7 linked regions of the Homo sapiens genome follow. The protein of the gene in region 1 purifies or fractionates together with the protein of each later gene. This does not show direct contact. Each region holds a gene or a part of one and is shown in the gene's direction. Other genes may lie near its edges.

What was found.
Region 2: the proteins of OVOL2 (region 1) and TMED2 purify together in Homo sapiens (affinity purification with mass spectrometry, with the first as the bait; one large-scale study listed by BioGRID). This does not show direct contact.
Region 3: the proteins of OVOL2 (region 1) and IVNS1ABP purify together in Homo sapiens (affinity purification with mass spectrometry, with the first as the bait; one large-scale study listed by BioGRID). This does not show direct contact.
Region 4: the proteins of OVOL2 (region 1) and PID1 purify together in Homo sapiens (affinity purification with mass spectrometry, with the first as the bait; one large-scale study listed by BioGRID). This does not show direct contact.
Region 5: the proteins of OVOL2 (region 1) and AIFM1 purify together in Homo sapiens (affinity purification with mass spectrometry, with the first as the bait; one large-scale study listed by BioGRID). This does not show direct contact.
Region 6: the proteins of OVOL2 (region 1) and U2AF1 purify together in Homo sapiens (affinity purification with mass spectrometry, with the first as the bait; one large-scale study listed by BioGRID). This does not show direct contact.
Region 7: the proteins of OVOL2 (region 1) and HNRNPH3 purify together in Homo sapiens (affinity purification with mass spectrometry, with the first as the bait; one large-scale study listed by BioGRID). This does not show direct contact.

The regions. Positions count from the first base shown.
Region 1 is NC_000020.11:18,050,995-18,055,237, reverse strand, and holds part of OVOL2 (transcription factor Ovo-like 2), read left to right. Parts: intron 1-4,243. UniProt on the Homo sapiens protein: Zinc-finger transcription repressor factor. Plays a critical role in maintaining the identity of epithelial lineages by suppressing epithelial-to mesenchymal transition (EMT) mainly through the repression of ZEB1, an EMT inducer.
Region 2 is NC_000012.12:123,590,741-123,594,983, forward strand, and holds part of TMED2 (transmembrane emp24 domain-containing protein 2 isoform 1 precursor), read left to right. Parts: intron 1-4,243. UniProt on the Homo sapiens protein: Involved in vesicular protein trafficking. Mainly functions in the early secretory pathway but also in post-Golgi membranes.
Region 3 is NC_000001.11:185,298,066-185,300,447, reverse strand, and holds part of IVNS1ABP (influenza virus NS1A-binding protein), read left to right. Parts: coding exon 1-11; intron 12-104; coding exon 105-231; intron 232-317; coding exon 318-449; intron 450-564; coding exon 565-738; intron 739-2,159; coding exon 2,160-2,382. UniProt on the Homo sapiens protein: Involved in many cell functions, including pre-mRNA splicing, the aryl hydrocarbon receptor (AHR) pathway, F-actin organization and protein ubiquitination.
Region 4 is NC_000002.12:229,148,827-229,153,069, reverse strand, and holds part of PID1 (PTB-containing, cubilin and LRP1-interacting protein), read left to right. Parts: intron 1-4,243. UniProt on the Homo sapiens protein: Increases proliferation of preadipocytes without affecting adipocytic differentiation.
Region 5 is NC_000023.11:130,138,274-130,142,516, reverse strand, and holds part of AIFM1 (apoptosis-inducing factor 1, mitochondrial isoform AIF precursor), read left to right. Parts: intron 1-1,899; coding exon 1,900-1,984; intron 1,985-2,645; coding exon 2,646-2,722; intron 2,723-3,815; coding exon 3,816-3,924; intron 3,925-4,243. UniProt on the Homo sapiens protein: Functions both as NADH oxidoreductase and as regulator of apoptosis.
Region 6 is NC_000021.9:43,104,512-43,109,372, reverse strand, and holds the start of U2AF1 (splicing factor U2AF 35 kDa subunit), read left to right. Parts: upstream 1-1,802; 5' UTR 1,803-1,878; coding exon 1,879-1,922; intron 1,923-3,527; exon of another isoform or gene 3,528-3,587; intron 3,588-3,817; exon of another isoform or gene 3,818-3,871; intron 3,872-4,861. UniProt on the Homo sapiens protein: Plays a critical role in both constitutive and enhancer-dependent splicing by mediating protein-protein interactions and protein-RNA interactions required for accurate 3'-splice site selection. Recruits U2 snRNP to the branch point.
Region 7 is NC_000010.11:68,330,760-68,334,863, forward strand, and holds the start of HNRNPH3 (heterogeneous nuclear ribonucleoprotein H3), read left to right. Parts: upstream 1-1,304; 5' UTR 1,305-1,457; exon of another isoform or gene 1,458-1,476; intron 1,477-2,024; exon of another isoform or gene 2,025-2,343; intron 2,344-4,104.

The DNA.
Region 1 (4,243 bases):
AGTGACAGATTCTCATCCAGTCTCTTAACAAATATTTTAGGCAAACTCTTCTGCCTCAGGCACACAGGGCCGTTGGAATCCTGGATTAAAGGAAGACGTAAACCAATCTTATTTCCTAGATTAGTTGCCTGTGTGCTGGGGGAAGGGGGGCGGGAGGCACAGTTCACTCCTGAACCGTTAAGAGTCTTCTTTCCATAGTTTCCAGGGGAATTTTTATTTACTGGGGATGTTTAGGTTCCCTCTTTCTGCCTCTACCCCCAAAAAGGAAACATTTTGGTGTTAATATGCTCCAAGCCTCCAGAATTATTATCAGCCATGGCATTGGCAGTTTTCAAATGACTGACCAAATTGCCTGTGACTTAGCACGTTGTATAATTATAAAGTTCTTTCCAAGGCATGCTGAACTCACAATTTCTCTAAGAATTAGTTTCTTTTCTTTTCTTTTCTTTTCTTTCTTTTTTTTTTTTTTTTGAGATGGAGTTTCGCTGTTGTTGCCCAGGCTGGAGTGCAATGGCTGGATCTTAGCTGAGTGCAATGGCTGGATCTTAGCTCACTGCAACCTCTGCCTCCCGGGTTCAAGTGATTCTCCTGCCTCAGCCTTCCGAGCAGCTGGGATTACAGGCATACGCCACCATCGCCGGCTAATTTTGTAATTTTAGTAGAGACAGGGTTTCTCCATGTTGGTCAGCCTGGTCTTGAACTCCCGACCTCAGGTGATCCGCCTGCCTCAGCCTCCCAAAGTGCTGGGATTACAGGCGTGAGCCACCGCATCCAGCCAAGAATTAGTTTCTTAGGCAGTGGGCTCCCAGGACCACAAGAAGGGCAGGTTTGAGCTATTGCCTGGCACAGAGAAGCAACACTCTGCCCGTCTAACACCTGGGGTGTGCAAGGCAGCAGGAGGTAAAAATGCTCCCACCCTGGTGTTCCTTCCAGAATCATCTGGCAGTAGCGGTTAATCATATAAGCTCTGGCTTTGTCACTTCTTAGCTGTGGACCTTGAGCAAGTGGCTCACCCCTCTGAGCCTCGGTTTCCTTATCTGTAAGATGATAATGATACCTACTTGATAGCATCGTGAGGATAAATGAGTGGAGGGTAGAACATGGTATGTGCCCAATAACCATAGATAGTATTCAGGTTAATAGGGAGACACAAACATTATTAACTCTGCTGCAGGACAGTGAATGTGAAACCAGAATTCCAAACAAAGACGTGACCGATTTGAGTGGGGAAAGTGTCCTGATGTGGATTTGAAGGCTGGGGAGAAGGGAGGCGGGTGGGCCTGAGGGCAGTGTGGGCTGAGTCCCGCAGCTGGAGCATAGAAAGGATGAAGCTCTGGTGGCTGAAGATAGGAAACAGGGCTTGCTGGGGTCAGGGAGAGAGTTGGCGGTAAAGAGCTGGAAATGTAACCAGGACAGGGTGAGATGGTGAAGGGGCCAAGCCAAGAAATATGGGTGCTCCTGCTGGGCAGAGGAGAAGCTCTGGATGATGTAAGAAGGAAAACCTCAATCGGGTTCCTCTTTTTTTTTTTTTTTTTTGAGACAGAGTCTCTCTCTGTCGCCTGGAGCTGGAGTACAGTTGCGCAATCTCAGCTCACTGCAAACTCTGCCTCCCAGGTTCAAGTGATTCTCCTGCCTCAGCCTCCCAAGTAGCTGGGATTACAGGCACCTACCACAAAGCCTGGCTGATTTTTGTATTTTTAATAGAGACGAAGTTTCGCCATGTTGTCCAGGCTGGTCTTGAACTCCTGACCTCAGGTGATCTGCCCACCTTGGCCTCCCAAAGTGCTGGGATTACAGGTGTGAGCCACCGCGCCCTGCCATTTGGGTCCCTCTTAACGGCTGTGTTCATGGATCATTATCTCTTCTGAGCCTCAGTTCCTTGATCTGTAAAGTGGAGGACTCAAAGAATCAGCCTCCTAGAAGAGTTGCATAGATTAAATGAGATAGTGGGTGTAAAGTGTTTAGCTTTCTGTGCATGTGTAAACTGCCCAAGAGGAAGTTAGCTGACAGTGACATACAGCAAGTTTTAATGCCCAACATTTTGTTGGCTGTAAGGACATGGGATTCACTAACTTGATCGTGTTGATGGGTGGATCTGGAAAAGGAGTCCGAGGTGCAGATTAGGAAATGTGGCTGGCCCTTCCCAGCCTACCTGCCTTTTGACGGTGTGCCTCAGGGCAGATTGTGAAATTGTCTCTTTACTACTGAGAATTCTGTAATTTGCCAAACAAATAAGGGTGAGAAGATGATGTACATTCCAGAGAGTGTGCATGGCAGGTCCCTTTTGTGCTGGATCCATCTGCAGGTCTTCAGCTGCGGGGTAGAGAAACCCAGGAAATACTAATCACCATTGTCCTTTGGAGGCTTATTAGAAAGTAAGTAACTCTGAAGTTGGCTGATAGTATTCATACGTGATTCTCTGGCTGGTAGGACCCAGGTCCAAGTATGGAGTACCAAGTGAATTTGTCCTCTCACCCTTTCCTATTCTGTTCTTTCTTTTTGTCCTCTCCCATGGGTTCTTCAAAATAAATTAAGTTTAGATTCTTTCAAAAGTATGCTTGGCCTTTTACCCGGCTCTCTATCGAGTCTTGTAGTGGTGCAGATGTGTGTCTACGGAGTAGTCCCCATACCCCCATCACTTTGTATTATTTACAATCTCAAAGGCATAGTCATACGTATCTGCCACCCAGCCCCAACAACCATTAACCCATGGCCAGTCCTGCCCAGCCACACTCCCACCCCTTGCCCCATGCATGATTCTGAAGCAAATCTAGGACATCATACCATTTCAACCATAAATAGTTCAGAATGTGCGTTTAGTGGATAAAGACCAAAATTCATGATCACACCCACATTACCAATTGTGTTCACATTACTAATTGTCTCATAAATTAATACTTTTCCCCTCCAGTTTGCTTAATCAGGTCCACATAATGTCCACACATTGTAATTGATTGGCATGTCTTTTGAGCCTCTTTTAATTTCATACATTTTCCCTCCATCAAGTTAATTGTTGAAGAAATGGGTGATTTGTTTTGTAGAGTCCCCAACAGTCTGGATTTTGCTGAGCGCATCACCATGTGCCTAATGTTTCTCAGTCCCCTAGGTTTTCTCTAAACGGATAGTTGGATCTGCAGCTGCAGCATCCAGTATCACATGTGACTATCACAGCCATAGTCAATTAAGAATTAACAATTAGACCAGGCGCCATAGCTCATGCCTGTAATCCCAGCACTTTGGGAGGCCGAGGCGGGCGGATCACCTGAGGTCAGGAGTTCAAGACCAGCCTGGCCAACATGTTGAAACCCCGACTCTATTAAAAAAAAATACAAAAAAAATTAGTAGGGCTTGGTGGCATGCACCTGTAATTCAGGCTACTCAGGATGCTGAGGCAGGAGAATCGCTTGAACCCAGGAGGTGGAGATTGCAGTGAGCCAAGATTGCACCACTGCACTCCAGCCTGGACAACAGAGCGAGACCCTGTCTCAAAATAACAGTTAAGTTCTTCAGTCCTACTAGCGACATTTCAAATGCTAGTAGCCATGTGTGACCAGAGGCTAATGTACTGGACAGTACAGAATATAATTTTTCTGTCACCACAAAAAGTTCTATTGGATAATGCAACTCTCCCTGCTTGGTCAGCTCTATTTTATTTCAGCTAGAATATGTCACACTGTGGGGCATCTGTCTTCATCAGAGGCACTGAATATTTGGTTATCTCTCTTTTTCTGATGTTAGCAGCTGTTGATGCTCAGGACCTAAATATTTTGGCTTATTAGGTGTTCTAAAACAGCAATAATCTAATTCTGTCCTCTGTTTATTAACTGATGTATTTCTATAGAGATACACTTTGCCTCATCTACTGCTTGGTTTTCCAGTGGCACAGTTCATTTATGAAAGGCAGAATAATGCTGGATTCGCTTTATTTACCTTTATTTGTAAATGAAGATAATCAGTTGTTAACCAGAATTCTCCATTGATGGCTAATTAGTTCTTTCTTTTCTTTCTCTTTATTTATTTTTCCTTTTGAGACAGGGCCTCACTATGTTGCCCAGGCTGGTCTCAAACTCCTGGGCTGAAACGATCCTCCTATCTCAGCCTCCCAAAGTGCTAGGACTACAGGCACATGCTGCTGAGCCTGGCTCTCAATCTGTTATTTCATTCATTTTGTTGTGAATTATGGATTCAAGCCGTTTTTAAAAACCAATTCATTTGATATTTGGAAGGGAATATAAGCTCCATC
Region 2 (4,243 bases), on another chromosome or scaffold:
TGGGAGGCTGAGGCAGGCGGATCACCTGAGGTTGGGAGTTCGAGACCAGCCTGGCCAACATGGTGAAACCTCGTCTCTACAAAAAATAAAAAAATTAGCTGGGTGTGGTGGCGTGCACCTATAGTCCCAGCTACTCGGGAGGCTGAGGCATGAGAATCACTTGAACCGGGAGGCAGAGGTTGCAGTGAGCTGAGATTGGGCCACTGCACTCCAGCCTGGGCAATGGAGCTAGACTCTGTCTCAGGGAAAAAAAAAAAAAAAAGTTTGGGTTTTTAAAAATGTATGGTGAGCTAAGGAATAAGCTAATTGTTTTCTTAAATCAGAAGGGAAAAATGTTGTAAAATGCGTATTGCATTGGTTTTTAATCACATACCTGAAACTTATGTACCAGTGGGATTAATATTAGATGCTGAGATTTAACCTTTTTACTAAAATGGAAAGCTTAATATAGTTAGACTAGAAAACACCAAAACATGAGTACAGGGAAGTCACCAGGTGAAGATCAGTTTGGGTCCTCAAGTTTGTAAGTTGGGAATTTGGAATGTATTTTGCTGTGGAAACAGTGATGATTGAAATCTTGTGTTAGGTTGCAAAAGTCTGTTTAGAACTGGATAGAGCATTAAAAATGAAGCTTTTGCATTTAAAATTAAGAGGTACTATATTGACAGACAGACCAATTCCATTGATTAGGTTCAGGGCCACACCATTGTTCAGTGTTTTCATCCTCCAGGTAGTTCTTGGGGAGATGAAAAGAGCAAGGTGGCTGGGGGCAGTGGCTCACGCCTGTAATCCTAGCACTTTGGGAGGCTGAGGTGGGCGGATCACAAGGTCAAGAGACTGAGACCATCCTGGCCAACATGGTGAAATCCCACCTCTACTAAAACTACAAAAATTAGCCGGGCATGGTGGCACGCGCCTGTAGTCCCAGCTACTCAGGAGGCTGAGGCAGGAGAATCACTTGAACCCCGGAGGCGGAGGTTGCAGTGAGCTGATATCATGCCATTGCACTCCGGCCTGGCGACAGAGCGAGACTCTGTCTGAAAAAAAAAAAGGAAAAAGAGCAAGGTATAGTGACGCATCTCTGTAGTCCCAGCTACTCAGGAGGCTGAGGCGGGGGATTGCTTGGGAGCAAGCTCTTGTCTTAAGGGCAGTGATTTTATGTCAGGAATCTTTGTTCTGAGACTGGAGTAGGAAGTGAAGAGTGACTCAAAGAGATAAGCACAGCTTGAATTTCTTCCAGATGTGCTTTCTGTTTTTCCTACCCTTAAATCTGTTCTTGCTACTTATGGAAACAAATCTTCAGGATCTAGAGCACAGACATCAGCTTGTGTTGGCAGGAAGGTGTGTAAATGTAATAGCCTGGAGAACTCCCCTCATCCCCACTTGTTTTAGGAGTGGAGTGGGGCATATTATGGACCAAGGCTTGTCTACAATTACTCCAGCCTCTTGCCTCACAATTTTGTCTCCTTGCCTCCACTCTTAATCTCACCAGCTGGGATCTTCACTTTTTCTCTCTTATCTTGTTGGGACTCATATGTTGTTTACCTTGTTCCCAGATGGGGAAACAGCCCATTCTGGAGTTGGAAGGGCACTGAACTAACTCAGAGGGCAAGTTCCTCTACTTTGCAATTTTAACTGGTTCAGACCAGATGGCTTTCAAGTTATAGAAGTTCTTGGGAACACAGTGGCCAGAGGAAGCACATGTCTTCCGTCTTTAGGGTGTCCAACCTTGTTCTCTCACCCATGATTTGAGTGGAGATACTCCTGTATTTGTTTCACAAATAGTGAGCTATGTGTTCATATTTAAAAGTGTTAGCAATTTCTAGAATTGAGTTTATAGGCATTCAGTTTAAATTTACAAAGCAAATGGTTCCCATAATGTTTTGTTTTTGTGAGTCTTCCTATAGGACCCACTCCTCAGCAGTGAACATAATGAGATCCTTTCACTACAGTGTTGTAATAATAATGTGTTGCTTCTAGATCAGGCTGATATATGAGTGGCATGAGGACAGTGTCCCAGGTCACTACATTCTGATGTTACTGTGCTTCAATGTGTTCTATTTAAACTTAAAGGTGCATTTTTCTTTGGGAGGCCGAGGCAGGTGGATCACCTGAGGTCAGGAGTTTGAGACCAGCCTGGCCAACATGGTGAAACCCCGTCTCTACTAAAAATGCAAAAATTAGGCCGAGCACAGTGGCTCATGCCTGTAATCTCAGCACTTTGGGAGGCTGAGGCAGGCGAATAACGAGGTCAGTAGTTCGAGACCAGCCTGGCCAAGAGAACAGCCTGGCCAATATGGTGAAACCCCATCTCTACTAAAAATACAAAAATTAGCCAGGCACATGTAATCCCAGCTGCTTGGGAGGCTGAGATCACTTGAACCCAGGAGTTGCCTAGGCTGGTCTTGAACTCGTGGGCTTGAGTGATCCACCTGCCTCTGCCTTTCAAAGTGCTGGGATTACAGGCCTGAGCCACTGTGTCTGGCCTATTTTCTTTTTACAGACTCTCTGGTTTTTGTTGTTTTTTTTTTAGACGGAGTCTTGCTCTGTTGCCCAGGCTGGAGTGCAGTGGTGCTATCTCAGCCCACTGCAATCTCCACCTCCTGGGTTCAAGCGATTCTCCTGCCTCAGCCTCCTGAGTAGCTGGGACTACAGGCGCACGCCACCACCAAATTTTGACGTTGTAAATAATTGCATTTTGGATAACTGTGATTTTGAAATAATTCCTTAATTTTTTGTAGAAGTCAGTTTTCTGATTCAGCAAAATGGATAGTAATATAGGACGTTTCAATGGTGAGGGAGAAAGATGGTTGGATTGGGTGTTAACCCTAGAATTATGACCTTGGGCAAGTCACCTTTTCTTCTCTGCTCCCCGTATACAAGCGGAATGGACTTGGCTGTACCCAGTGAATCTTTAAGCCCAGCTAATTTTTGTATTTTTAGTAGACGGGGTTTCACCACGTTGGCCAGGATGGTTTCTATCTCTTCACCTTGTGATCCACCCGCCTTGGCCTCCCAAAGTGCTGGGATTACAGGCGTGAGCCACCACGCCAAGCCCTATTTTCTTTTTAGAGACACAGGGTCTTACTCTGTTGCCCAGCCTGTAGTGCTGTGCTGACAATACAGCTCACTGCAGCCTCAACCTCCTGGGCTCAAGTGATCCTCCCGCCTCAACCTCCCAAGTAGCTGGAACTACAGGCATGTGCCACTACACCTGGCTAATTTTTTTTTTTTTTTTTTGGTATTGTAGAGACTGGGTTTCTCCATATTGCCCAGGGTTGGCCTCTGACTCCTGAGCAAAAGCAGTCCTCCTGTCTCAGCCTCCCAAAGTCCTGGGATTATAGTGTAATTGTTTTTAATGTTGGCTATTTGCAGAAAAATAAAACACTACATAGAATTTTTTTTTTTTTTTGAGATGGAGTCTCGCTCTGTTGCCCAGGCAGGAGTGCAGTGGTGCAAACTCGGCTCACTGCAAGCTCCGCCTCCCAGGTTCACGCCATTCTCCTGCCTCAGCCTCTCGAGTAGTTGGGACTACAGGTGCCTGCCACCACGCCTGGGTAATTTTTTTTATTTTTAGTAGAGACGGGGTTTCACTGTGTTAGCCAGGATGGTCTCGATCTCCTGACCTCGTGATCCACCCGCCTCGACCTCACAAAGTGCTGGGATTACAGGCATGAGCCACTGTGCCCAGCCTACATAGTAATTAAAAGCTAAGGCTATAGAATTTGACTGGAGAGTTGGACACAATGGCTTGTGCCTGTAGTCTTAGCTGCTTCTGAGCCTGAGGCAGGAGGATTGTTTGAGGTCAGGAGCTTGAGACCAACCTGGGCAACACGAGACCGTTTTTAAAAAAATAAAATAAATTGGCCAGGCGTGATGGCTCATGCCTATAATCCCAGCACTTTGGGAGGCCGAGGTGGGTGGATCACCTGAGGTCGGGAGTTCGAGACCAGCCTGACTAACATGGAGAAACCGCATCTCTACTAAAAATACAAAATTAGTCAGGTATGGTGGTACATGTCTGTAAGCTCAGCTACTTGGGAGGCTGAGGCAGGAGAATCGCTTGAACCCAGGAGGTGGAGGTTGCAGTGAGCTGAGATCGCGTCATTGCACTCCAGCCTGGGCAACAAGAGTGAAACTCTGTCTCAAAACATAAAAAATAAAATAATAATAATAATAAAATACATTTAAAAATAAAAAGAATTTGGCCAGGCGTGGTGGCTCATGCCTATAATCCCAGCAC
Region 3 (2,382 bases), on another chromosome or scaffold:
CTGTACTCATGGTAAGCGCATTATGTTGCAGGAGCAACCCCTATTTAGCTTTTTCCTCGTAACTTCAGGATGTTAGAAATTCTCATCTCTCACTTTTGGCATAGGGCCAGCTCTATGTGGTAGGTGGATCAAATGGCCACTCAGATGACCTGAGTTGTGGAGAGATGTATGATTCAAACATAGATGACTGGATTCCTGTTCCAGAATTGAGAACTAACCGTTGTAATGCAGGTAATAATAGTTTTCTCCTGAGATATCCAGTATTTAAATATGATAATTAAATTATCAATATGTAACTTTATTTTATACTTACATAGGAGTGTGTGCTCTGAATGGAAAGTTATACATCGTTGGTGGCTCTGATCCATATGGTCAAAAAGGACTGAAAAATTGTGATGTATTTGATCCTGTAACAAAGTTGTGGACAAGCTGTGCCCCTCTTAACATTCGTAAGTTGATTTTTTTTCCTTTTTTTTTTTAAAGACCTTCAAATCAACAGTATGTGTAGTATACACTTAGAGTCTGGGAGATGTAGCAATAATCTTGACTTGACTTTTCTTGTAGGGAGACACCAGTCTGCAGTCTGTGAGCTTGGTGGTTATTTGTACATAATCGGAGGTGCAGAATCTTGGAATTGTCTGAACACAGTAGAACGATACAATCCTGAAAATAATACCTGGACTTTAATTGCACCCATGAATGTGGCTAGGCGAGGAGCTGGAGTGGCTGTTCTTAATGGTGAGTGTTGGGATTTGGAGAGGTGAAGAGTAGATAGTGGCAAGACTTTGTTCTAAAACTCTGAGAGAAAAGGCCAATGACTATAGTTGTACAGTTAAGAATTCAGAAGCAGTCATCTCTTTTGATGCAATGGAGATTAGGGTGATTTGTCCTTTAGAAATATATTTTCTAATCAAAGACTTATAATACTTGATATATAACTTAATTCACCAGTCTTTTGATGGGTGCACTGAGTGAATTTCCAAGTCATTTTCTTCTATAAAACATATCCTTAATGCATCATCTTGAATTTTGAGTTTCCCCTTCTTTACAGCCAGAATTTAAAGAATCTGATCTGCAAAACAAAGGCAAATCCCTAGTCTTTTCCAACTGTCTACTCCATACCTAATTGGAAATACAACCTTTAGACTATTTTAACAAGTTTCCAAAGTATTAAACTTTTTAAATGTAGACATAGCTTTCTTTCCACCTCCATTTTATTGACTTTTAATGTCTAATTATATAATCATAATTTAAAAGTTAGCATTGTTTTTGGTACCAGGCTGAACCTTAGCAGGCTTATGGCTCAACTGGTGAAGGCTTAAGTGTAGACACAGCCTGTTGGCCTAGAGCATTGTCAGCGTGCTTTACAGATACATAGAATGCAAGCTGGTTAAGTGATGGTCAAATGAAAAAATAATGAATTTGAGAATCAGTAATAAAATTTTTTCTAAGCTACGGAGTATTTATTGCTAACATTTTATCTATTTGAAAATAATCATAACTCTGTTTCCAGAAGAAATTTCTGTACCACAATCATTTTATTTTTTTAATTGAGACATGGTCTCACTGTGTTGCCCAGGCTGGTCTCGAACCCCTGGGCTCATGCAGTCCTCCCACCTCAGGCTCCCATAGTATTGGGATTATAGGCATGAGCCACCGCATCTGGCCCCAAAATCATTTTATACAGTTGGAAAGCCCTAAGATATTTTTCTGCTTTCCTATAATCTCTTCTGAGTCTTAATTCTGTACATTGGGCTGATATAAAGTCCAGTGCACAGAACTATTCTGGTTTGCTACTTAGTAGCTGCATCTGTAGGATAATTGTCCAGCTTCTTCCTGCTTTTCTTCTTCTCTGAAATAATAATAGTAACTACCACAGAGTTGGTGAAAATTGTACTTATTTAGATGCTGCTACTGCTTCCTCTCCCTCCCCCTTTTAAGTTGCCTAAGTTCCACGTGGGAATGGTTTTTTTATTGATTTGATTCCCAGCTCTTAGAGAGTATTTGTCATATTAGGCATTTAATAAATTCTTTTTGACAAAATGAACAGGCATTTCTATTTTTAAAACCACTGATTTTTAAGCAAAAGACAGATTTAGGGGAGTTTTACCTTATTACACTTTAATCTCTGGATTTACCCCATCTCATTTCTCTTTTAGGAAAACTGTTTGTATGTGGTGGCTTTGATGGTTCTCATGCCATCAGTTGTGTGGAAATGTATGATCCAACTAGAAATGAATGGAAGATGATGGGAAATATGACTTCACCAAGGAGCAATGCTGGGATTGCAACTGTAGGGAACACCATTTATGCAGTGGGAGGATTCGATGGCAATGAATTTCTGAATACGGTGGAAGTCTATAACCTTGAGTCAAATGAATG
Region 4 (4,243 bases), on another chromosome or scaffold:
TTCCTCTCTGATTCTTGCTAGTAACTTAGCTCACAAGATGCCAGCTGCAGAAGGAACGCTCTCTCGGGCTCACGCCTCCCAGGAATAATGAACACAATGTAGCCCGGGCCCAGCTGCAGGGCCAGCTCACGGGACCCTCCGCCTTCACACAGTAGTCACTCTTTTTTCCTAATAGCTCTTATAACTTTGGGTTTGGGGAGGGAAAGAGGCAGGAGGAAGCAAAGGAAAGGGGGAGTTGAAAATGGGTTATGGCGAGCACCACTGAGACCCTAGCTCATCTCAGATTTCCCATTTTCTGCTGATCTGTATTCTCCGTGGGTCCTGACGGGATTGCCTTGCTAGGCTATTCATGTTTCGGGCAGCTGGGTCTTTGTGTGTTCTCCTCTATTGCTGCCACTTTTTTTTTTTTTTCTGGAGTAGAGTTATTTAACTGTACAACCCACTGCAGTGCATTAGGACTCTTGTTGGAGCTGTTTGGAGTATCAGACGCTGTGTGTGATTTTGCTGCAGCAATGATGGCTTGTCACACCTTTCTCCTCCTATCTAGCAAGATGGAATCCTAGGTGGCTTCAGCTTGTTAGCAAACATTTATTGAATTAGTAGTCATTGAAAACCTACTGTGTACATGGTATTGTGGAAAAAGGAATAAAAATAGGTATTGTGGGGGATGCAACCTATAGCCAAGTAGAAGGAATAAGACAAGTGCCCAAATAAATAAATCACAAGTACTTCTGAAACTTGTGTGAGTATCAGAATCCCCTGGCAAGCAGACTCCTGGACCTTCTTCCCAGAAATTTTGACTCAGGCACTCAGCTTAGTGGTGGGGAACAGGAGCCTGCACTTTAAATTGTACCATGTAATTGACATGAAGGCAAACCGTGTTTGGAGGTTGAAGTTCTGAGCTGCAGAGTAATGTGACAAGAGCAACCTGAGTGACATGAACAGACCCGTACCCTGGGAGGTGGGGAGTGGGATGGAAAATGGGATTTGGTGGATTTGCTATGGCAGTCCAGAAAGCTGACTTCTAAGGAAGAACTGGGCTCTGGAATTACTGGATCAGATGTGAGCACTGTGTGTGCCACCTTATCCTCCAGCAGGAGCTGCCCTCCTTTCATTGAGACTTGCAGGGCCATTCACTGATGTCCTCAAAGCCTTCACAAAATAGTGATAATAATGATGACCATAGTAATAAAAAAAAATAGCTGGGCGCGGTGGCTCACGCCTGTAATCCCAGCACTTTGGGAGGCCGAGGCGGGCGGATCACGAGGTCAGGAGATCTAGACCATCCTGGCTAACACGTTGAAAACCCATCTCTACTAAAAATACAAAAAATTAGCCGGGCGTGGTGGTGGGCACCTGTCGTCGCAGCTACTCGGGAGGTTGAGGCAGGAGAATGGCATGAACCCGGGAGGTGGAGCTTGCAGTGAGCCGAGATCGTGCCACTGCACTCCAGCCTGGGTGACAGAGCGAGACTCCGTCTCAGAAAAAAAAAAAAAAAGAAATAGAAGTCTTAATAACACAGAACTGACAATAACACAGAACTGACATTAAAGAACAGGTGTTAATTAATGCATTAAGCACTCATCTATGCACTTTTCATGGCATAGAGCCATTTCATCCTCATGGCAACTCAACGGTTTAAGTGCCAGGTGTAGCCCCATTTCACAGATGAACTAGTTGAGGCATAGAGAAGTTCATCTGACTGTCCCAGGGTCCCTCGTTAGTAACTAGCAGAGCCTGGATTTGAACTGCAGCATTCTGACTCCACAGCCTGTGCTCCCCCCCACCGGATTCCACTGCCATTGGGTGGGTTTTGTGTCTATCCACAGGTGCCTCTTGAAACAGGTGGGGCAGTTGTGTCATGTGATTTTGAGCAAGTTGTTTCTTTTCTTCAGGCTTCTGCACCTTTCATAGGTCAGTATCAGGATCTCATGGACTATACAAAATTAAAAAAAAAATGTAAGGGCTAGTTGATTTGGCAGGTGAGTTGTTACACACTCCTTAGTGGATTCTGAGTTCCGTGCCTACCATCCCATCCTGCTCTCTTTCATCCAGACATCCAAGGCTGGAGGATTTACCTTGTTTAATTGGATTGGGATGTTATCTTTTCTTACAGAAACCAGAAAGCATAAGGAAAGTACTAAAAATATCATATGATTTTACCCCAGATATACCACGCAGATTCTCAAATTTGGTTTTCTTAAAAAAAAAAAAAAGGCACTCTACAATGAAAAATCATATGCCTTATAAACATTATATGTGTAGATATATAACCAACACAAAATGCCCACCGAGTTCCTATATGGCCGTGTGGATGCTGTACAATACCCGTTCCACAGTGCTTATACTGTTAAAGCAAAATAGCAGCAATATTGTAACAAACAAACTGACACATAACTGGGGATTTAGCACATAACATATGTCTTTTATTTAAAATGTTTTATAAAGTTTGTAATTGGTGCTAATTTCTGAGCATGAGGATTTCTCTGAGTTACAAAAGGGAAGTAACCCAGAAGAGAAATACCAAGGGGAGGTGTGTGTATAGGAACAGGAAAAGCAGGATCATTAGCAGTTGTTGACATGGGTCTCCTGTTTGGGACTGAATCTGTCTGCCTTGATTGGGAGAGTACATCGCTGTCTTTCCACAACATCCTTTTCGTATGGCTGGTGGGGTCAGCGTCTGAGGTCAGCCCTGAGGGTTGGCTTCAGGGGGTTGCTTCTCCTGGCCCCTGAGGCAACCTTGGATGTCCGAGGTGAACAGGGCTAATTTAGCATGACCTCTTGTCTTTTCTTTTCTTTACTTCTTTCTTTCTCTCTCTCTCTCCTTTTTTTTTTTTTTTGAGTCTCACTCTGTTTCCCAGGCTGGAGTGCAGTGGTGTGATGTCAGCTCACTGCAACCTTTCCACCTCCCAGGTTCAAGCGATTCTCCTGCTTCAGCCTCCTGAGTAGCTTAAATTGCAGGCATCCGCCACCAGGCCCGCCTAATTTTTATAATTTTAGTAGGAGTTTTCACCTTGTTGGCCAGGCTGGTCTCGCACTCCTGACCTCAAGTGATCCACCCGCCTCGGCCTCCCAAAGTGCTGAGATTATAGACCTGAGCCACCACCCAGCCAGAATGAGATATTTCTTTGTGCTCCCCTTCCTTTCTGTTCCCTCCCAGCCTAGATTGAAGGTGTCCATGTCTTGATTCTGCAGCCTATCCGGCAGCGCTTGTTCCTTTGTCCTTTGCCGAGAGTCCCACCAGCCCCTCACCTAGGCCTGTGCTCACCATGTGCTTGGCCCCATGTACCCAAATCTTGTCTCCTCTTGAGTGAGGCACTTGGCCTGGCTTGATGTGAAGCCCAGTCTAAAGCCGCTACGGTCATCTTCCCATTTATGAGGGTAACTGTCAAACAAACCAGTTTCCAAGAAGGAGTTAATGATCTGTAAACCATAACAATTTTTATATTGCCTTTTTTGAGATTCCTTGCCTTCAGGTATAACAGTAGTAGTCCCTTAGCTCTCAGGAAGGAAGAGATTGATTACAGTTTCATAGAAGGGAGGGGAGATGTTTCTGAGCTGAAGACTTTGCAGGTAACCCTTAAATACTATCAGGGGGTGCTTGTATAAAACAGCCAGTCTTAGAAATGAATTCCAGTCATCCAGCTTATCTCATGATAAGGACTCTTGATTTGAATGTAAGTGTATTTGAAATTAGCATCACATGTATCTGATTTCTACACCTAAATCTTTGGGTTCCGTTGATCAATTATGTATTTAACTTGAAATACAGTCATGTTTTCTCATTTTAGACAAAGGGCCATTTTTTACTTCTTAACACAAATGAAAATATTAGTTTTATTATGTGACCACCCTCATCACATGCATCTCTACAGCTCTTTCTTGGTGTTGGCCATTTGGGGCATTTCTTGAATCCTATGCCAATTATACAGACTTTCTTTTGCAAAGTAAGTTTCTGACTTTAATACCAAGACAGAATACAAATAATATTCTATAAAATTTACATAGAATCTAATATAATATATATATATATATATTAGATTCAAGCCTGTGGTTTCCATTGATATTTTCATCTAAATTCAGAGTCATTGATATTTATTTTCTCTTTATTCTTTCTTACACTTTCCTGTAAACAAATCAAAACATTCACTTCTGCTTGTCTCCTCAAATGCAGGAAGCTAAAAGTTTATATGAGCTAACCTTTGTTGTTTCAGAGACAAGCTTTTATTTTTCTGCAATTTTT
Region 5 (4,243 bases), on another chromosome or scaffold:
GGGACAAGCATGTTAATAGGCTGGACGGGGGTGGTGGGGAGCCCTCATGCCTCATGGGAAGCTATGGAAGATCACATCTAATGGCTTCATTTGTTTTTGCAATACAATAGAACATAAGATGGTTATCTGAGAGCGAACACCGTGAGGGTTGAGTAGCGGGATTGGATTGAAGAGGGAGCTTACCAAGGACAAATCAAAGGAGGCTAAAGAAGCTGCTTATCCATCAGATCTCAGTTCATGTCATTGCCTCTAGAAAGCTTTACCCAACCCAACCTGACTAGATTGCACATGTCATATGTTCCCAGCGCTACCTGCACTGTTCTTACCACTTACATCACATTTGTCACTCTTGATTATTGTTAGTGCTTGTTAAATTGTCTTGGCCACTAAACTCTGAAAGCAGCAAGGATCACTGTCTCAACTTGATACATAGTAGGTGCTTAATTGAATGGTCTCAGCTAGTAAAGAGTGGTGCAAAGACTGGGGCCCTATTCTCTCTGACTCCAAAGCTCAAGCTCTTAACCATAAGAAGGAGTAGGGTGCAAGGGAATTAAAGGTACTGGCAAAAGAACAGTTTGGGTGTTCTACCATTGGCCCAAATTAGTTAGAATGGAGCAGCTAGTCAAATAAACAGAGAAAATTGAAAGCAAGCATAGGAGACAGACTGAGCGAAAGCTGAAGGGATGGAAAATTGTGACCAACAAGTAGAATAATTGAGGTAGGAGGAGAGGTTTAGGAGATAACAAGATGAGGAAAAGTATGAGCCAGGTTCCAAGGTCTTCAGTGAATCAGGAGGAGTAGCCAGGAGGTGGCTCAAAACAGTGATTCGTAGGAATATAGGACTCCTCTGATGTCCCTCAGAAGAGAATGAAAGTACAAGAATCTGGAAGCAGCAGACCAGTAACCTCAAGAAGCTTGCAGAATGCCAACACCTCCTCCTGGCCTTGTGATGTGGAGTGTGGGGGAACGAACAGCCTCTATGTGTAAGCTCTCCTTAAGAGAGAGCCAAGTTTCCGTGAAGGCTACAAGTTGGAGAAAGCATTCTGTAAAAATGTTGTAGATGTAGGAGACTTATTAATAAAGTAATAATAAGTAATTCCAAACAGCCATATAAGAAAGGCTGTTCCGATTCTCCTTTTCCACACATGGGTCAGGGCTTTGGGACTGTCATGACTTGCTCTAATGTTGCCTGCCTTCTCATTGCCAATTTCCAACATATGACTGCCTAAAAAAACTGGGTACCAGAAACTGTGGTTCCCATGATTACTTGGATATGGTTTCTTAAGGATCGCTTTAGGTCAAGAACTCATTCTTCTTATTGGGCTGACAACTTTTTTTGTTTTTGTTTTTGTTTGTTTTTGTTGTTGTGGTTTTGGGGTTTTTTTGTTTTGTTTTGTTTTTGAGACAGAATCTTGCTCTGTTGCCCAGGCTGGAGTGCAGTGGCATGATCTCGGCTCACTGCAACCTCTGCCTCCCAGGTTCAAGCGATTCTCCTGCCTCAGCCTCCCCAGTAGCTGGGACCACAGGCATATGCCGCCACACCTGGCCAATTTTTGTATTTTTAGTAGAGACGGGGTTTCGCCATGTTGGCCAGGCTGGTCTCAAACTCGTGGCCTCAGTGATCTGCCTGCCTCAGCCTCCCAAAGTGTTGGGATTACAGGCATGAGTCACTGTGCCTGTCCTGGGCTGACAACTTCTTATTGACCTGGAGTTTTGGGGTGGTGATGGAAATGTTCTGAAATCAGATAGTGGTGATGGTGGCACAACCTTGTGAATATACTGAAATCCACAGAATTCCACACTTTAAAATGGTGAATTTGATGTGAATTATATCTCAATAAAACTTTTTCAATGCTAATTCATCTCTACCTCTTTTGTGTATGTGTGTGACTGTACCAGGTAGTACAGCTGGATGTGAGAGACAACATGGTGAAACTTAATGATGGCTCTCAAATAACCTATGAAAAGTGCTTGATTGCAACAGGTGAGCATTTCTGGAGATGGCTTTCTTCCCTGATACAGCTCATTCAAGTTTTAGAGTCCAGCCTTCTCTATGGAAGGCATTACTACTTAAGAAAATGGAAACCCAGACTCTCTGAAGTGAGTGTCTTCTCTTGGTACAAAAGCTGGCTGTGTCAAAGCATCCTGGATCACCAGCCCTTCTGGATGATCCTTGCTGTTCTCCCGGTAGAGGCATGAAGAAGTTGCCCTTTTTTCTCTCCCTGCTTAACCCTCACCCTGTGCCCTGTGCCTTGAAAGTGATGTCGTTTGTGGCTTCATTGCCAGTTGCAATCAGAAACCAAGAGAGGAGACAGAAGCAATTTATCAAACCCATGTAGCTATGCTAGCTGGCAAATCCTCATGAGAAACTAGAAGAGAACATGGAAGCCAAAAGTAAGGCCTTTTGGCCACCTAGGGGCAGGGTGTACCCCTTGAAGACAGACTCTCAAATCTGCTTCTCAAAGGAAACTGACAGAAAGCCTGCTGTGAGGCAAGCTGAAGGCAAACAAAGCCTTGGTATCCTATCCTGTTGTTGCCGCCATGGTGCTAAGTGAAGAGGGCTCCACCTTTGTGTGGTGGAGGGAGTATTGTTTGGGCTGGCTCCTGCTTGTTGGGCTAAAGGGTTTTCCTTCTCTTATTTCCAGGAGGTACTCCAAGAAGTCTGTCTGCCATTGATAGGGCTGGAGCAGAGGTGAAGAGTAGAACAACGCTTTTCAGAAAGGTAATTGTCTGCTTTAGTGTTTTCCTTGTGTTGTTTTTGAAGAAGTAGTATAATCTTGCAGTCCCCAAGTGCCCACCCGGGACTTGGGAGATCCAAGTTCTATTTATGGCTCTTCTCCAGACTTGTTATCTGGCCTTGAACAAGTCACTTCCTCTCTCTGCACCTCAGATACCTCACTCAAGGGTTTTAAGCTCCTAGGGAAAAAATGGAGTGTTTGTATTGCTTGCAATAGATCCTTCTGATTGCTCTTCCATAGTTGTTTTTTCCTGATGTGTTTGATTCATTGGAACCCCTTACAGCCTCTTGGCATTTTTCATTGCAAGTGCTGTGTAGAGACTTCTGAGAAAAAAGTTAAGAGTACCTAAATAAAAAGCAAGGAGGTGTTCTGCTTCTTAACACTGTGCTTATAAAAACTGCTGTCATTTTTCAGGGATAAGATTTGTCCTGTCTTTTTTTTTTTTTCGAGACTGAATCTCGCTCTATCACCCAGGCTGGAGTGCGGTGGTGCGATCTTGGCTCACTGCAACCTCCGCCTCCCGGGTTCAAGCGATTCTTGTGCCTCAGCCTTCCAAGTAGCTAGAATTACAGGCATGTGCCACCACGACCGGCTAATTTTTTTTTTTTTTGTATTTTTAGTAGGGACGTTTTACCCTGTTGGCCAGGCTGTGTACTGTCTTTTAAGTTCTTCCTAGAACAAGGCTTGTCAGCCTCTGCAGTATTGGCATTTTGAGCTGGATAATTGTAGTGGGGGCTGTCTTATGCCATTGTAGTATGTTAGCAGCATCCTGGCCTCTGCACACTAAATGCTGGGAGCACCTACTTGCCCTGACAACCAAAAATGTCTTCAGATATTGCCAGATGTCCTCCTGGGGAAGATAGGGACAAAACTGCCACCAATTGAGAACCACTGTTTATAGAAGGAATTTTACCATGAAGAAATAAATTTGCATTAATAACATAGAAGTTATAATTGAGTCACTTTATACAAGGAGAAAATTTACTTTTGCCAAAGATTTAGAAGAAACTACTTTCTAGTATTATTATCCTATGCCCCTTTTGGAAATTAATGGACTAAACTGATGTGATCCTGCAGATTGGAGACTTTAGAAGCTTGGAGAAGATTTCACGGGAAGTCAAATCAATTACGATTATCGGTGGGGGCTTCCTTGGTAGCGAACTGGCCTGTGCTCTTGGCAGAAAGGGTGAGTATTGAGGAGTGACCTTGATTTTCTTTCTCTAGTCTTATATAGCTTTTCTGTGAATCCCAGAGATGTGTTTGGCAGGATCAGTAGGAAGAGTTTAATTAAGGTTTATTTATTTATTTTTTTTTGAGATGGAGTCTCGCTCTGTCACCCAGGCTGGAGTGCAGTGGCGCGATCTCGGCTCACTGCAAGCTCCGCTTCCCGGGTTCAGGCCATTCTCCTGCCTCAGCCTCCCGAGTAGCTGGGACTACAGGCGCCTGTAACCACGCCTGGCTAATTTTTTGTATTTTTAGTAGAGATGGGGTTTCACCGTGTTAGC
Region 6 (4,861 bases), on another chromosome or scaffold:
CATCTGTCTTGTCACTTCTCTGGCCTCACCTCTGCGAAAGGAACACAAAAGTCAGGACCCCAGTTCACTCTGTCAAAAGGAAAAGAATGAGCTGAAAGCTGAGTCATGTAAGCAGCTGCCTTTCCTTTCGTTCCTAAGCAGACGGCTACAGATAGAAGGTTCAACATCCGCTTCTCTTATGTAAAGTGCTGATTTGCTGAGGAGTGAGCTGTACACAGTCGACTGTTCCCAACCTGCTTCTTTTCTCTTGCAACGTGTGGATTACCACACTGTTCCGCTTTCCCCTCCAGCCCACTTTTCCCCTTTAAATACTGAAGCCCTCAAAGTCATCTTTGGAGAAAGGCACAGACCACAGACTGTTTCTGTGATACCGTGTTTTTTTTCCTCCCAGGCATTGTCCTTAACCTTGGCAAAATAAACTTCTAAATTGATTGAGCCCTGTCTCAAGATACTTTTTGGTTTAAACCTCTGAGGCCCTACTGTTTCTAATACAGGTTTCCAGTTTGCTCATCTTTCCCAGGTAGGAAGATGCTCTGTTGCCAAGAGAAATGCAATTCTAACACGCAAATCCGCCCAAACACTAGAGCTCAGCATTCAGCTCTAGCCGAGCTAAGAGGATCCCATGGTCCTGCCCCACAGTCTGGGGCTCATCTTGTGGAGGAGGTAAGTAAAATAGGCCCTGTCTCTCTGACTTCTACCTAATCAGAGTTGATAGTTGCGTTGGAAATTAGGTAAATCGCAGGTGAGTTGATGAATGTGGGAAACCAGATGAAAATGGCTGCTTGATGGGGTTAAAACGCAGGAGAGGAATAGAACCCTTCCAACGGAATGGTTCCAGCCTTGTGACATGAGGAGACTGAAAGGGTATCCCAGAGGCAGGTCACTGGCCTTCCAGCTCCACCTGTGGGTGGCCTTGGCCAGGCAACTGCAAGAGTGCAGGGCCCCGGGGAGGTCGCACCTGGCAAGCGCTGAGGGAGGGTAAAGCGGAGAGGGGTGTGAGAAGAGAAAAACAACACAGAGCGTCCGAGCTATGTGAGGCGTGCGAGGTTAATCCGGCCCGGAGAGACAGGTCTATGCGGCTTCAGCGGTCCCCACCCATGCCTGGCAATTGTTTAAAGGCACTATTGCTCCGGACCCGCTGCCTTCACCCATGAACTTCCTTTCCTGGAATTATGATATAAAGAACAACGTACAGCCAATTAATAGCTTGTTATTTTCATGTAAATTCTTGGTGAGCTATTTAAGAACTGCCCCCCTCTTAAGCTTTATAAACCCACTTGTCACTGTTGCAAATCCTATGTTCAGGGCAACTTGAAGCTATGCTCCCGGGTTGCAATCTTCAAACTTGGCCCAAATAACCTCTCTACTTATATCAAGTTTGCCTCAGCTTTTTTTTTCTTCTAGGTCGACGGTTCCCGCCCCGCAAGGGTGCAGGGAAGGGGACGCCCGCACTTCCTAGTGCTCCCTTAGCTGGGGTCGAGCTGAGCGCCCCCCACCGAGCCCCAGGCGGCTCTGTGGAGAAGCCCCTCGGCCCCGGGTTCGGTCTGCACTGCCAGCCCCCAGTCCCCGGCGCGCAGGATCCAGCAGGGCCAGCGCCGGGCGGGCGAGAAGGCGAGAGAGCTAGGGCCGGGCGGGGAGGGCACCGGCAGGGGGCGCGGGTTCCCAGGACCGAAAAGGCGGAGCCTCCCACGCGCACTACGTGCTCCCTACGCGCATGCGTCCCGCCCACGCGCAGGCAGCACCTCGCCTGACTGGGTAGCGCTGCCACGTCGGGGCGGGGAAGAGCGTCGTCGCGTCCGGGTGACGTCTCCCGAGGGCGTCGGCAGGGTCGGCGGCGTCGGCAGCAGTGTCGACGGCAGCGGCGGCGGCGGGTGGGAAATGGCGGAGTATCTGGCCTCCATCTTCGGCACCGAGAAAGACAAGTGAGTGGGAGCCCCCCGCCGGGGGTTGGGCGCGATCGGGGCGCAGGGTGGTTGAGGCGGTGGGAGGGCGACCGGGGAGGCCCAGGCGGGCCGGCGCGGCGGTGGCGGGGGAGGGGCGCGCGGCGGGAAGGAGCGGTGGCCCTTCCGGCCCCTTGCGCGCCCTCCGGAGCCGCCGCCTCGTGGGCCGCGCGGCGGAAAACTGGAGCGGGCAGAATGAATGGGGTCTCTTTTCGGGGCGCCGCGGCCGAGCTTTCTCCGGCCTTGGGGTCCGGACTGGCTGATCGCCCGACGTCCGGGCCTCCGAGTCGCCGACTCCCGGAAGCCGCCTCGAGCCGCGCTGAAAGTTGCCTGGAGCATCCGGGCCTTTTGGACGTGGACACGTTTGTTCCAACTTTCGGCTGTGAATGTCCTGTCGAGCAAGCTCTGGTACCAGCCTCGCCAGTATTCAGTCGCTTATCTAACTTAGGGTCCTAAGCGTTGGTGTTTTATCCACTTAGCCAGCCTCTTGCCTGTTTAAGCGACCGCTGGGCCGGCAGTAAGGAGATATGACGAGAAAAAGTATGGTGGAGACTACTGGATTAACTATCTAACCACAAGAGACGTGATCCGCTCTTAACATACAGGTGCTCCTGGATTTACCATGGGATTGCGTTCCGATAAACCCATCATGAATCGAAAATGCCTTTAATACCCCGATAAACCCATCATCTAAGTTGAAAATTTGTAAGTCGGTGACTGTTCTTGAAGACACAATTCTGATATAAGGAAAAAGATGTTTTGATTTTTTCCTTAAGGTTGCATGCCTTCCCTAATCAATCGTTAGGTTAAAAGCAAAACATTTAATTTCAGCTTTAATTGCCACCTTGGCACGTACTAATTTCCAGTGAGTTGGCTGTAGTTTAGACTAAATGGAATGTTTTCAGACGTTTGAAGGATAATTCTTACTTTGAAAACCTAAAGACTCAGCATCTGGCTTAATCTACTCTTTAGTTATCTTGGCATTCTTCAGTGCCATACAAAGTTAACATGACTTTATGTTTTCAATGATAAACCCCTAAGTTTGTCATAGATGTTTTTAATGCCACTTTTTTCAAACGCTATTTAAAATGTTTCTCTTTTCCAGGATGGAGTCTATCTTGTAAAATGTCCTCTTCACACATGGTAGAATCTCCTGTGTTGTTTGGATGAGGAGGCTATATTTCTAGCAAAATTTTAAGCCAAAATCTACCAGTTATAGTCACTCCAGAAACATTTAGTGGGGGTCAACTATAGGTCAGTTTCTGGAGACTTAAACATGGGTAAAATTTGGATATTATCCTTAAGGAACTCACGGTATGATCTTGGCGAATGAATAGACCAGCTCTATCGGAACAAGAGACTCTTCTGAGTTTAGGGTGAAGAACTAACACATGTAGGATCGGGGCATCATTAATTTCTCCTTTTCATATTTGCATGTGGCATGACTTCTGTCTTGTAAAAGTCTATCTCCCTATATTTCTGCTATAAGCAACCACATTTCAATCTATTGGGCTATACTATAAAGGTCATGGTTTTAATTCAGAAAAGTTGATTATTTAATCTAGGTTACTTGTGTTTTCTTTTCAGGGAGACGTGGGGTTTTAGCTTCCAGGGAACAGGATCAACTCCTGAAAAATGAAGCTGATGGTTCATATTAACTTTAATTATTATTTAAGCTAAGAATAAAATATAGATCTCTACCAATTAAAAAATGTTTAGCTTATTATATGTTTGAAGTTATAGATGTTTTCTAGATTCAGGGATATCCTAATAGCTTGTCTGTAGTTTAATTGTGTGGAATAATTGGATATTAATTGTTGAGGCCCAGGGCTTGCCCATTCTGAGGTAGTTTTTAAATAAGCTTTCTTTATTTTTAGATGACTTCCTAAAGATATGCTATTGTCTAATCAAGTTAAATAATCTCAAGACCTGTAAGTTTGCAAATATATATAATCACTTTCCTCTCCTGATAAATTTGGACTTTCCCATCTTTATTGCTACCTGATAATAAATCAGTGGCTAGTCAGTCTTCATGGTCCATTAGATTTCACTGAGGTTGAGGCCCTTCAATCTTAACTCTGGATTGACTGTTTAAAACATAATGGCACTTGGTTAAAAAAAAATTGAATTTTGAACAAAGTCTGTCTGGTAAGATGTCCTAATTCATCAGAGATCGGCTTCCCTCCCTGACATTGCTGGCACACAGGCATGATTGCTGGTTCCATTGGATATGGATCTGGATTGTCAGCGTATTTGAACAGTATTAAGGGAGGGTTTTGCAGTAGAGACAGAAGGTGACGTAAGGTGGTTCCTAAGGTGGGTTCGGTCAGTCCCCTAATAGTTTGTTTTCAGTGTATTGAGACCAGGAGAATTGATTTACTTCAGACCTATTTTTTGAAACTCCCTGTTGGTCTGGTGTCATGCGTTTAGAGAGACTCTGAACTTCGTTTTCTGTTTTCCTTAGATAATGATAGCACTTCATGAGCACCATATGTGAAGCACACATACGTTCTGTCTGACTCTCAGAACAGTGCCACATTGGCATTGTCATCATTTACAGATGACATCTGAGAGCTAGGGTGACTTGCCCAAGCCCAAGCAGCTGGTAGCAGAGTTGGGATCTTAACCCTCACCACACCGGTGTTTTCAAGAGAGAACTTGGTCGTGGAGAACTGGAGAACAGATACTGCCTAAGTTACATTTAGTTTTAGACTAATTTAATACTCCATTTAAGAAACAAACAGAACAGCTGTGCAGTTAGGAAAGTGGAGGGGATTTGAATGAGGAGGAGGCGGGTTAGAGTTAGAACCGTCTTTGCTGAACAAGTAGTGTGTTTGCAGAAAGGGAAGTTGAAGTTACGTTGTCCTAAAATACAGCAAGGAAGAGGAGGTGCTTAATACCACGGAAAAAAGTCTGTGTCA
Region 7 (4,104 bases), on another chromosome or scaffold:
TTTTAGTAGAGACAGGGTTTCACCGTGTTAGCCAGGATGAACTTGCACTGATCTCTTTACCAGGCTTCCCCTTAACCCTCTGCGCAGAAATTCGGGGTTTTTCTTTGTGTTTGAGACAAGAGTCTCCCTCGGTCTCCCAGACTGGAGTGCACTGGCGCAATCACGGCTCACTGCAGCCTCAACTTCCAGGGCACAAGCCATCCTTTTGCCCAGCCTCCTGTGTAGCTGGGACTACTCGGGAGTCCCATCTACTCCCGTGCGCTGCCATCACGCCCAGCTAATCTTTGTATTTTTTGTAGAGACAGCACCTCACTATGTTGCCCAGGCTGGTCTCCAACTCTTACGCTCAAGCGATCCTCCCCCTCGGCCTCTCAAAGGCGTAAGCCACCGCGGCCAGCCTTTTTTGGAACTTAAAAAAAAAGCCATAATGTGTCATTAGGAACCTTGGTGACATGACAGCAAAACCAAAATGTACTTATTTATTAGGTGTCACTTGGAAGCGCAATTTTCAACAACGCAAAACTATAAAAAAAACCCAACGTCGGCCTCCACAGGCTAATCAGTCTCCGAGGCACTGACGGCGGGAGAGATGAAAACGCGAAGGCCAGAGGAGAAAAAGAGGAAGGATTTGCAGAGAGAACGGTAACGTGGTGGACATGAATACACCCAAGAAACCCGGATCCCGCGCGGCACATTGGGACGAAGCGCGCTGGCGGGCGGCCAGCAACTCTGGGCCAGGGGAAGGAGGCGGACACCCAGCCCGAGAGCCGAAATCGGCCCCAGTGGACGCTTTCATCTTCGCGGCCCAGAAACACTCCTATTTTTCACCGCACAATGCAAACATGGTGGACCAGAAAATCCGCCCCGCGTTTGCCGGTCGAACCACGTGGGGCCCTTTCCGCGCCGTCGATGCCTAGCCAGGGCGGGGCCCTCACAGAATTTGTTCACGGTGGGGGCAGATCACCGGAGAACTTCTCCAGAGCGCTACGGCACGGTTCCTTCTACACACTGGCAGAACTGCCATTGCCATCGCCCCGAGGCGGCAGAATGGTACGCTCTGAAAACTGGATGGTTCTAACGTAAGCAAGAAAAACGGTGCGCGCTGCAGCTCTTTAACTGGAACAGCCTCTGCTCGGTCTACCTCGCCCCCAACAGCTGCGCAACCCACCACCGCGCAGGCGCGCTGCGTGCCGCCAGCGCCATGCGAAACCGACTTTCCCGTCTCGCGAGAGTGGGGCCGGCCGCCTTCGCAGTTCTCGCTCCGCCCCCCACTTCTTGCTCGTTCCCTCCCATCCCCCCAAGCCAGTAGCTGTGCTGCGCAGCTCCCTAAGCGGTTGTCACCGCTGGAGACGGTTGGGAGAACCGTTGTGGCGAGCGCTACACGAGGCAAACGACTTCTCCCTTCTTTGAACTGGACCCCGCGAGCACCAGAGTCGGCGTAACTATCGCCTGACAGGGTATCTGAAGTAAAAGGGGGTAGGTTGGGCTGGTGGTTTCGAGAGCGGAGTCGGGAGAAGGACGAAAGGCCGGGAGGGGCTGGGTTGGGGGGTAGTGGGGTGGTCGCCGCTCGGAGGCCGCCGCTTGGAAGCGGCGGGGCTGCGCCTCCCCGACCATCTCCCACTTCAGGGAGGGCGGCTTGCCGATGGGAGGACTTGCTCAGGTGGAATTCAGTGGACGACGCCGAGGCCCGAAGTAGGGGACATCCAGCATTTTCCCCTTTCCCTGCTGGCTTGGCCTCCGCCATTTTGGGTACAGTGGCGCGGCCACCTCGGCTTCCCGCCCTTCCCCGCTCTTTTTACTTTTTTGTTCCCCAGCTTCCGAAAACTGATCTAGAAGGCCAGGGGAGGGGGTGGTCAAAGCTCCCTGGAAGGGATGAGGGTGGGTAGTGAAGCGAGCAGGGAAAGGCCGGGCAGTTGGGTGGAGGGAGGATCGGGTTTGCCGGGCGCGCTCCCGATGGAAATGGCGCCGGATGGGCCTGGCCTCCCACCGCGGCCTCCCTTCCTCCGCAGTCTCGGCAGGGCTACCTGGGCTGACGGGACTGCGAGTGACTTCTGACGCAGATTCCCAAGATGAGAGAGGCTGGAGCTGGGGGAGGAAAGCCAATGGCGACGAAGGTGCTCAACTCCCAAATCCAGGACAAAGGAGGCAGACGGCCTCCTTTGTAATTCTGCCGCCCGGTGGCGAAGGGTTTTAAGCCAGGCTTGGCTGCTGACGGGAGGGGGAAGGGGCGTACTCTCCCTAGCTTTCTGGTCTCTAGGGCAGCTAGATAAACGGAAAGTCTCCTGGGAGGAATAAAGGACGCTTAGCCGGCCCTTATATTCCAGATTTGGAACTTCGAAAAGAGTACGTACTGATTTTCCAAAGGGTTTTTTTTTTTTCATGTTTAAACGTTAATAAGGACTTCGGGGATGATTTTGTGAGCAGAAAAGTGGGTGATTTATCAAATAGGAATGTGAAATGGGCATGTTTCAAGTAGGTCGTCTGGGCCCAGTGAACTATAATTGTTGCTTTTTGAACTTTCGGGGTGGGGGTGGGTGATGTAGCAATTGTTTTGCGTAGTTTGGCGTATATATGTTAGAATTTGTTTTTAAGTTTTACTTTTGGGAAACAGTTAAAACAACCCAGTGATGGTAGATGTGTGTGTATTGAAATTGAGCTTTCGATGTTAAATCTTCCAAGAGTTGTATTTTGTGCAGTTTTTTTTTCCGATGGCATTAAGGCTCTAGAAGTAAAATACTTCAAAATACGGTTATGGTTTATTTTCTTTTGGTAGCTAGGCATGTTTTTTCTTTAGTGTAGGAGTATAGTACACTGTAATCGTATTTTAAACAAGGGAATAAGCCTACTAAACATAAAAACAAATTGTAAACCCAGTCACGTGGTGGTGGTGTGATTCGGATGAGGGTCCTGAGAACTGGATCCGTAATTTTCATTGAAGACAGTACAAAAGGGAGGAGAAAGGCCTGAGAGTAAGAATTTCTGATAATTCATGTAAAACTTTATAAGAATATTGTTACCTACTTTTCCAGCTCTAAAAACAAAAACTTATTATTATTGAAGATGTTCAGTGATGCTTTCTCAAGATTGCCAAGGAAAAGTTTACGAAAATCTTACCTTGAAACAGTAGGTTTGAGTGACCCTTTGAAGAGATAGTCCAGACTGTCCTGTAAAGTTATATATGATATAACAAATAGCTTTACTAATTGGATTGGACTACACATCTTTTTTCTGTCCTCTTTTCATTTGTGCCGTTATCTGGAAATCCATCTAATTGCCTTTTTAAAATAATGTTATCTTTGATTTCCTTGTTTTGGTAAACTGACTGAACTGCAGTAGATAAAAACCTGGTTCTAGTGAACTAACATTTTAGAGACCTTACCTCCTTAAGCTATTAGGGGTGTGTCTAGTTTTTTGTTTTTGTAAAGAGCAAGCCCATTGGGAAGGAATGATGTAAATTTTCTGTTAAACTTAAATCATCAGCACTTTTTCCAAAAAATAAAATTCATTCTCATTTCTTGACCACTGGGCTACCATTTAGAAAGTTATTTATTGATGTAAAATCCTTTATGTATTACTTCAGAAGATAGGCTATGCCTCCGTGTTAAGAGGATTCTCTATTTCATTTGTTCTTTAGTGGATTTTTTTTCTTTAACGACTTTGGTATATAATTCACATACCGTAAACTTCACCAATTTTAAATGTACAGTTTAGTGGATTTTAGTACATTCACAGCGTTGTGTGACCGTCACTACAATTTAATTTTAGAACATTTTTGTCACTCCAAAAAGATATCCATACCCTTTACTGGTCATTCCCATTGCTGGCATCCTCCCTCCCCTCAAGCCTCAGACAATCATGAATAGAAATGGAATCATGCAATATGTAGTCTTTTGTGACTGGCTTGTTTCACTTGGTGTAATGTTTAGAAAATTATACTTAAAGTCTCATAAAACTTGACCAAAGCTATCCTCATATTTTAACTGTGGTATCTTTTATTGGTACTAGCACCTAGAATTCTTAAAGCAGAGTAGTGATTAGCCATGACATTGTTGCAAAGAAAGGTTGAGGTGGATTATCCTGAATAATTAGTAAACTGTTTTAAGT